2 separate regions of the Homo sapiens genome follow, and region 2 is linked to region 1. Evidence: fine-mapped expression QTL. A gene starts in region 1. The other region holds a variant in brackets. All regions are shown on one strand. Distances are from middle to middle. Region 1 holds the start of SBNO1 (strawberry notch homolog 1). Region 2 overlaps MPHOSPH9 (M-phase phosphoprotein 9).

What was found. PIP is the estimated chance that this variant, and not a neighbour inherited with it, causes the effect. A credible set is the group of variants that fine-mapping cannot tell apart.
Region 2: its variant is the best candidate, but not a certain one, in a credible set for the expression of SBNO1 in fibroblasts (GTEx, PIP 0.55).

Annotation. Positions count from the first base shown.
Region 1 is chr12:123,362,467-123,366,854 of GRCh38, forward strand. It overlaps SBNO1 (strawberry notch homolog 1), which reads right to left and starts at 2,381. Exons shown (of 32, transcript NM_001167856.3): 1 at 2,235-2,381. It overlaps MIR8072 (microRNA 8072), which reads right to left and starts at 2,377; the gene lies at 2,298-2,377. It overlaps SBNO1-AS1 (SBNO1 antisense RNA 1), which reads left to right and starts at 2,482. Exons shown (of 2, transcript NR_157806.1): 1 at 2,482-2,649; 2 at 3,059-3,338. RefSeq lists enhancers at 1,047-1,765, 1,422-1,471, 2,932-3,141 and silencers at 1,952-2,061, 2,102-2,181, 2,292-2,531, 2,662-2,761.
Region 2 is chr12:123,224,046-123,228,433 of GRCh38, forward strand. MPHOSPH9 (M-phase phosphoprotein 9) reads right to left here. Exons shown (of 24, transcript NM_022782.4): 3 at 3,418-3,571. Among named protein-coding and RNA genes, the nearest start is that of MPHOSPH9, 6.9 kb to the right of the region's middle. The variant TATA/T (reference allele first, on the strand shown) is at 2,186.

The DNA of each region.
Region 1 (4,388 bases):
AAGGATTCTGACGGGGGGGCCAAGGGCGGTGGCTCACGGCTGTAATTCCAGCACTCCGGGAGACAGAGGTGAGTGGATCACTTGAGGTCACTAGTGTGAGACCAGCCTGGCCGACATGGTGAAACCCCTTTCTGCCAACTACATAAAAAAAAATTAGCCAGGTGTGGTGGCACATGCCTGCAATCCCAGCTACTAGGGAGACTGAGGCAGGAGAATTGTTTGAACCCTGAAGGCAGAGGTTGCAGTGAGCCGAGTTCATACCACTACACTCCAGCCTGGGCAACACAGCAAGACTCCGCCTCAAAAAAAAAAAAAAAAAAAAAAAAGATTCTGAAGGGGCCAGGCACAATGGCTCATGCCTGTAATCCCACCACTTCGGGAAGCGGAGGCCAGAAGATTGCTTGAGGCCAGTAGCTGCCTCCCAACATGGTGAGACCCCCGCCTCTCAACAAAAAAATTAAAAAAAAAAAAATTAGCTGCTGTAGTGGTGCACATCTGTAGTCCCAGCTACTCCGGAGGCTGAAGTGGGACGATCGCTTGAGCCCAGGAGTTCAAGCTGCAGTGAGCTATGACCACGTCACTGCACTTCAGCTTGAGCAACAGAGTGGGACCCTGTCTCAAAAATTTAAAAATAGCATAAATATTCCAAACGCAATTATATGGAATAAGTTGGAATGGAAGATAAAAAGCAGAAGCCAGAGAAAAAAAGTAAAGTCGTCTCCCATCGGAAAAATTTTGGAAACAACTTCTTTAAAAGATGAGAGAAAATGTTCCCTTGCTTGCAAAATTAATGTCCCACTCAAGTCACCAGTAGGAAATTCTGCTATCTTCTGTGCAACGATGATAGCTTTCCCTACGCTTATGAAAATCAATTCTGATTGCTAGAAAATATGGTGGAAAATAGAATCCCTCTGTACTGTCAGCTCGCAGAATTATCTGAAAGTGTTAAGTCAATTCCTGCTAGGGCACTCCGGATGACAGTTCTCTGCACCCTTCTGGATGACTCTTTAGAAACCATATTCCATCCCTAATTCTGGCTGTCTAGAATATATGAAACATTTAACTCAACATAAAATGATAATAGCCAACTTTCAAAGGTCAAAGGGGACCAGTTTATAACCTTCCCTCAACACGTGTTCAGTACAAACTTCCGGGTGCACTTACAATTGGCTGCGCAATTCAATGGATAAAAACGTTGCTTTATTTGTCTCTCATTTTCTGGCCCGTTCTTTTCCCACGTTTCTCAACCAGCGACTCCCCAAAACAAAAGCCTCCCACAGTAAACCGAGCACGCACATAAAAAGAGCTTCTCTGTGCGAGGATCAAGTTAGTGGTCCGCAAACATTAACCAAACAGAAGCACAAAGCAGGGGTGGGAAGGGGAGGAGCTGGATGCCAGGGTCAGGAAAGAAACAATCAGAAGGGTTTAGGAACATCCAAATCTCCTCAGCGGTTAAACCGACCCCAAACCACTTCTGGGAAACCACCGGTATCCACTGCTTTGGGGAACTCTGGATGCTCGTTATGCCAAACGCTCTCAAAGTAAGCAAATCCCCAACTGCCGTTCCCCTCCATGGGTAATTCTTAGGGTCTGGGAGGTGAGCTCGCCCGCCGAGGCAGAACTAAGCGAGTCGCCTGGAGAGGCGTGAAGGGAGCCTGCACGTGTCCCCCGCGGCTTCCCCACCGCCCCAAGAGCGGGGCATGTACGAGACCGCGCTGTGGGGTTCAGATTTAGGAAGGACGACCGCGTCGCCTGCCTCCCTCCCTCGCCCAGAGCCGGGAGCAATGCTGGGGCACGAAAGAGGACTTGGGAAGGATCCGGTCCTTACTTTCCCCGCGGGTCCCGGACCCGCAGCCCCCGGGTTGTGAGGCGGAAGCCAAAGGGGCGAACCCAGCGGAGCCGGCGTGCACAGACCCTGCCCCGCGGTCCAAGAGGGGTGCCTCCGGCCCGGGACAGCGGGGCTCCCGGAGCCCGAAAGCCCCACGAGCGGCGACAGCGGGGCCCGGCGCTGACGAACAGAGGAAGCGAGTACAACGGAGCCGCCGTCGGGAACATGCCCCCGAGGGCCCCGGAGCGCGCGGCCGCGAGGAGCGGCAAGCGGCGAGGGAGGCCCCAAGCCGGGGCGAGGTGGCTGTCCCCCCAGCCTGGCCCCGCACGGCCCCCCGAGGGTGGGAGTGGGAGGCTGTCCGGGAGGGGGAGTGTGGAAGGAGAAAAGGGCCAAGGGAAGGACTTACTTTCCCCGCGGGACCCGGCGCCAGCACAGCTCCTCCCGGGAGGTGTGAGTTTGAAGGACCAGAGGCGACTGGAGCGGAGGCGGCGGTGGCGGCGGCAGCAGCGGCGTCCTGCTCTGCCTACCTCCCCGCCGCCATCTTGACGCCCCTCCCCCAGCCCCCCCGCCCCGCCGGGAGGGGCGGGGGAGGGGCAACGGATGAGGCGCCGCGCGCACGCAGCGCCCTCACGTGACTTCCTCCCTCCTCCCCCACCCGCCTCTCTGCGCCCCTCTCCGCCCCGCCTCCCTCCTAGGTGAAGGAAGATGATTTCCCCCCCATCTTGACCACCCCCCAGTCTTCGCCGCCAAAAACGGACTCCGCCGGCTATCCTCGGCCCGGTACCAGTTGTTGGATCCAAGAGAATTCCGGAACCCAAACGGTCCATTACCGCGGCTCTGGGGTGGGCGAGGGGTGAGGGGGCCGGGTTTCCGCGAAGGGGGAGGGGGAAGGCGAAGGCCACCTAGGAGAGTCACGTGACTACTGTTTCCGCCGGCGCTCACGGAGAGCTCGCGGTAATTCCGTTTCCCCGCCCTTTTTTCCCCGCGGCCTGTCGGGAAGAAGGTCCGCGTGCCAGGGCTATCGGGAGGTCGGCCGGAGGGCCGCGCGCATGCGCCCCGCGCCTGCTTTCAAACTCCGGTTAGGAAGGGCCTGGAGCTATTTTCAGAACCTGTTAGGGTGGGGAGCTACGGCCCAGGAAGTTACCTAGCAGCGTTTCTGTCACTTGGAAGATCTCTTCATTACCTAGTTAGTCCTAGAAACAAAATGTTTACATATTCATTGCTTGTTAGGCTCGCTCAAAGCACTTTATTGGCAGTGAAACCGCAAGTAACCCGGAGCCCTCGGCGCGACCACGGCTAGAATCAGAGCCTAAGGCGTGTGAGCTCAGCCATCCCACGTCTGTCTTCACGCTCATACGCAAGCCCGACACACCGGGGCTCCCACTTAATGAATACTGAAGAGTAGGGCTGTCCCTACCGCTTCTCACTTCCTTGTTTTCATCTTTTCGTTATTATTAAGCGACCTAACACAATAAACATATTACCTTGTTGGTAACCCTTTTGTAAAGTCATTCTGAAAGTGCTGTTTGACTCCGTTGCTTGGGTAATAAGCACGCCTGGGTGATTCTTGCCCCCTACTGGCTGCGCATCCTACAAGCCTAGTGCTGAAAGCAAACCAAGTAGCTGGAACAGTTGGAGGTTACAGTGTGAACTCTTCCAGAGACAAAGTATTCGGGGAAAGAAAGGAAAAAGTAGGCACAGAAAGAATAGGAAACTTCAGTGTTTGTACACATAGATATGTATTATATATCTATGTATACATTTATAAATATTTTTAAAGTGCTAACTAATCGCTTTACTAATTACATTATTTCATTTAATCCTCTCACACACATAGAAAAAAAACCTATAAAGACAAAAATAAAAAATATTTTAGGCCGGGCGCAGTGGCTCACGCCTGTAATCCCAGCACTTCGGGAGGCCGAGGTGGGCGGACCACCTGAGGTCAGGAGTTCGAGACCAGCCTGGCCAACATGGTGAAACCCCATCTCTGCTAAAAATACAAAATTTAGCTGGGGCTTGGTGGCGGGCACCTGTAATCCCAGCTACTCTGGAGGCTGAGGCAGGAGAATCGCTTGAACTCAAGAGACGGAGGTTGCAGTGAGCCGAGATCGTGCCATTGCACTGCAGCCTGGGCGACAGAGCGAGAATCCGACTCAAAAACAAAAAACAAAAAAAACCTTAGGCACAGGCCAGGTGTGGTGGCTCACGCCTGTAATCCCAACACTTTGGGAGGCTGAAACGGGGATCTCAGCCAGGAGTTTGAGACCAGACTTGGGTAACAAAGTGCAACCTCATCTCGACAAAAAAACATTTTTCTTTTTGAGACGGGGTCTCGCTCTGTCGGTCGCCCAGGCTGGAGTGCAGTAGCGCGATCTCGGCTCACTGCAACCTCTGCCTCCTGGGTTCACGCCATTGTCCTGCCTCAGCCTCCCGAGTAGCTAGGACTTTTTTTTTTTTTTTTTTGTATTTTTAGTGGAGACGGGGTTTCACCGTGGTCTCGATCTCCTGACCTCGTGATCCACCCATCTCGGCCTCCCAAAGTGCTGGGATTACAGGC
Region 2 (4,388 bases), 140 kb before region 1:
TGCCTCAGCCTCCCAAGTAGCTGAGATTACAGACATGTGTCACCATGTTCGGCTAATTGCTAATTTATATATATATATATACACATTTTTTTTTTTTTTTTTTTTTGGAGACAGAGTCTTGCTCTGTCGCCCAGACTGGAGTGCAGTGGCATGATCTCGGCTCACTGCAAGCTCTGCCTCCTGGGTTCACGCCATTCTCCTGCCTCAGCCCCCAAGTAGCTGGGACTACAGGCACCCGCCACCACACCCGGCTAATTTTTTTGTATTTTTAGTGGAGACGGGGTTTCACCATGTTAGCCAGGATGGTCTCAATCTCCTGACCTCATGATCCGCCTGCCTCGGCCTCCCAAAGTGCTGGGATTACAGGCGTGAGCCACTGCACCCAGCCGAATTTTCATATTTTTTAGTAGAGACATGGTTTCACCATGTTGGCCAGGCTGTTCTCGAACTCCTGACCTCAAGTGATCCACCCGCCTCGGTCTCCCAAAGTGCTGGGATTACAGGCCTAAGTTTTAAATTTAAATATGATGCAGTGATCTCAATGGGGAAGGAACTCCATGTTGGAAATCTGTGAGGTCACGGTCATGACAAAGCTGGGGGGACATCACTGGCATTTAGTGGGCAGGGTCCAGGCATGCGGATCATAGGGCAGTCCCCCATGATGAAGAATTGTCCTGTGTCCATTTTATGTTATAAAACAATAAATATTTCGCACAGTATTCATAACATCAAAACAAACTTAAGTTTCAAAATCTCATGAGAAGTTGGTCACCCTTTCAGAAAAGCATGTCACCAGTGGAGGTGCTGTACACAATACCTGGATCATCAACACACCATAGCTATATTGATCTGTGTTCAGCTGCTGAATTCACAGTGAGTACATACAGGTAAACATGACTACTTCATTATGTCTTCTAATGAACATGTGCCTGACATGGATATATCCAAATACATGTTATTTTACTGTAAATTTTTTATTTCTCCTTTATGTCACATTTAGGATAGTATATTGATTTTTTAAAGCGGGTAAAGGTAGGTTATATTACCTATGAATTTCATTTCAGGATAATATAAATTGATGTTATTTTGAAAGCTGTTATAAAAACAGAGCTCAGAGGCTGGGCACAGCGGCTCATGCCTGTAATTCTAGCAGTTTGGGAGGCCAAGGTGGGTGGATCATTTGAGTTCATGAGTTCAAGACTAACCTGGGCAACATAGCAAAACCTTGTCTCAACAAAAAATGCAAAAATTAGCTGGGCATGGTGGTGTGCACCTGTAGTCCCAGCTACTTGGGAAGCTGAGGTGGGAGGATGGCTTGAGCCCAAGAGGTTGAAGGTACAGTGAACAGAGATTGTGCCACTGTACTCCAGCCTGGATGACAGAATGAGACCCTATTTCAAAAAAAAAAAAAAAAAGAAAGAAAGAAAAGAGAGAGAATGAAAGAGGAGAAAAAGAAACAAAGAAAAGGAAGGAAGGAAGAAAGGAAGGGAGGGAGGGAGGGGGTGGGAGGGAGGGGAGAGGAGAGGTGGGGCAGGGAATATATTCTGATTCTGACTTAAGATGCTAATGTCAAAAAAAAAAGGTTGATTTCTAATTATCAAAAGTAACAATTTCTAGTTAAACACAAATTTTCCAGAAGTTAAAATACATTGTGGCAATGCCTCCTTTGTCCTAAAGCATGTTAATTCAGTTATCAAAAGCTAATAAGGGCTAGCCACGGTGGCTCATGCCTGTAATCCCAGCACTTTGGGAAGCCAAATCAGGCAGATTACCTGAGGTCAGGAGTTCGAGACCAGCCTGGCCAACATGGCTAAACCCCTTCTCTACTAAAAATACAAGAATTAGCTGGGCATGGTGGCGCTCGCCTGTGATCTCAGCTACTCGGGAGACTGAGGCAGGAGAATCACTTGAACCTGGGAGGCAGTGGTGGCAGTGAGCCGAGATCGCACCATAGCACTCCAGCCTGGGCAACAGAGCAAGACTCTGTCTCAAAAACAAACAAACAAATAAACAAAAAGCTTATGAGTAGATACATTAAGGGAAGCATTTAATATACTTAATAAAACATTCCATTTTTAATTGCATTTGCATGGGCATTTTTAAAGGTCTTTCACGTTAGTGCATACTGATTATTATATGCAAACAAGCATAAAGTATAAAAACTGAAAACTCAATTTTTTAAGCA[TATA/T]ATAATACTTTTTTATAATTTCAATAATTATGGATAATGGATATAAATAATTACACTTAGCAGTTGCTGCTATCGAATTCTTAAACCAGGTAATCTTTCATTTCGCTTACTCTACATTCTGAAAAATAACACAAATTATGCTTCTAAAAGTACAATTAACGTTTAAAACAAGATCTAGTGCTTTCTAAGAATTAATAATGGTTTAAACATTTCTATAAAAAACTATCAAATCCAGCCTTAGGAAAGTCTATCTTGAGCATTATCCTATGAAATAAAATTTATATATACTTTTTTTTTTTTTTACTGAGGGGGTCTTGCTATGTTGCCCAAGCAGGTCACAAACTCTGGGCACAAGCTATCCACCTCTGCCTCAAGTGCTGGGATTACAGGTTCTCTTTTTTTATATATAGAGAGAGACAGGGTCTCAGTCTGTCACCCAGGCTGGAGTGTAGTGCTGTGATCATAGCTCACTGCAACCCTGACTTCCTGGGTTGAAGTGATCCTCCCACATCAGCCTCCCAAGTAGCTAGGACTACAGACACCGTGCCACCATGACCAGCTAATTTATTTATGTATTTATATTTGTAGAGACAGGGTCTCGCTATCTTGCCCAGGCTAGTCTCAAACTCCTGGCCTCAACCAAACCTCCCACCTTGGCCGCCTAAAGTGCTGGGATTACAGGCGTGAGCCACTGTGCTCGGCCATGTAAGTATTCTTTTAACTGTTACATTTTTATATCACAATTTAACCTATGAACCAAAGAAAGAACCACTGATCTGAAAACAATATAATGCAATGTATCACAGCTGAATATGGTAAGGTACTAAATAGAAGCTTCAATTTATAATTAGAACATTGAAAATATTTCAAAGTGGATTTAGGTTTTTCAAAATGATGACAATTCCATATAAGTTACTGACAACATTACAATTAGTAACAATTTTAATAATTTTGGGATTCTCAGGTCTCTGAACCAAGACAATGTTTTAGTTCATATTTAATATACAAATTAGTATGTCTAATCAGTAATATATTGTTAAAAAATACTTTTGATCACCTTTTTCCCATTCATTCAATATCATTCCCAAATTAATATACTTGACCACTTTAGCATTAACTTAAAAGTGTCATGCTCTTCAGGACATAAATTTCTAATAATTTAGAGTTTAGTAGAGGTATGTTTTAACATAATTATTTTAAAATTCCAAAAATAAAACAAAATTAGATACCTCACAGTTTTTCCAAAGTTCCGAATCAGTCTTTCCACTGTTTTGTAGCTCTTGCATTAAAGAAGTTAGGACTTCAACTGTACCTTGAATTACAGATGGTCTGGTCTTCCCTGAGAAAGAGGATACCCCATTTGTACTAAGGTGGGGACTACTTCTGTTGAAACATAAATAATTCAAATGGTTTTCTTCATTCTATCAAAGTGTTGAATAATTCAGCAGTTCAAGATTTAGCAGAGCAGTACAAAACCACTGACATTTAATCCTTCTAATGGCACCTCATTTGTTCAAAATCTGATCACAAGTTGCTCCACAAAAGGAAACGGCCAGTAAAAAGACCGCACTGTACTCTTTTTAAGAACACAACAAGAAGACCTTCTCCAGAAGTGAGAGAACACTCCAAAGGATCGGCAGAAAATAGAAAAAGTCTGTGCTAAACAATAAGATTAATTTCCAGCTTCTCTGATCTCAGCTATTCCAGAGGATTATTTCCCCCAACTTTCAGAACAGCCCTTCATTGTGCAGTGGGGATTCTTTCCCCACTGCCCCAAATGACAGTCAAATCTTGTTCACTGGACACCCTTAATTTGGTACGATAAGCTGATGCTTATCTCTGCACTATCTCTGCATAAAAGTTGTGCCAAGCAAATCAGCAGCAAATATTCAGGACTTATTTAGCCTACTCAGTGTGTAAAACAGCACTGAGTTTTTCCAGGAGTACTGCTTTTCCAAACTTCAGGTAAGTTATTTCGGATTTGTTTTATAAACACACAATATATTTCAGGACATTAAAATGTACTTAAAATCTAGTCACCAAAAGATCATTTTAATTTATTTACTGCTTGATATCCTGCTTTCTTTCACAAATAATTTGTTTAAAAAAATAAATAAAAATAACAATAAAATAATAGTTAGGACCAGTGAAAATATTACTAAAAATTCAAAGGAGGCCAGGCGCAGTGGCTCACGCCTGT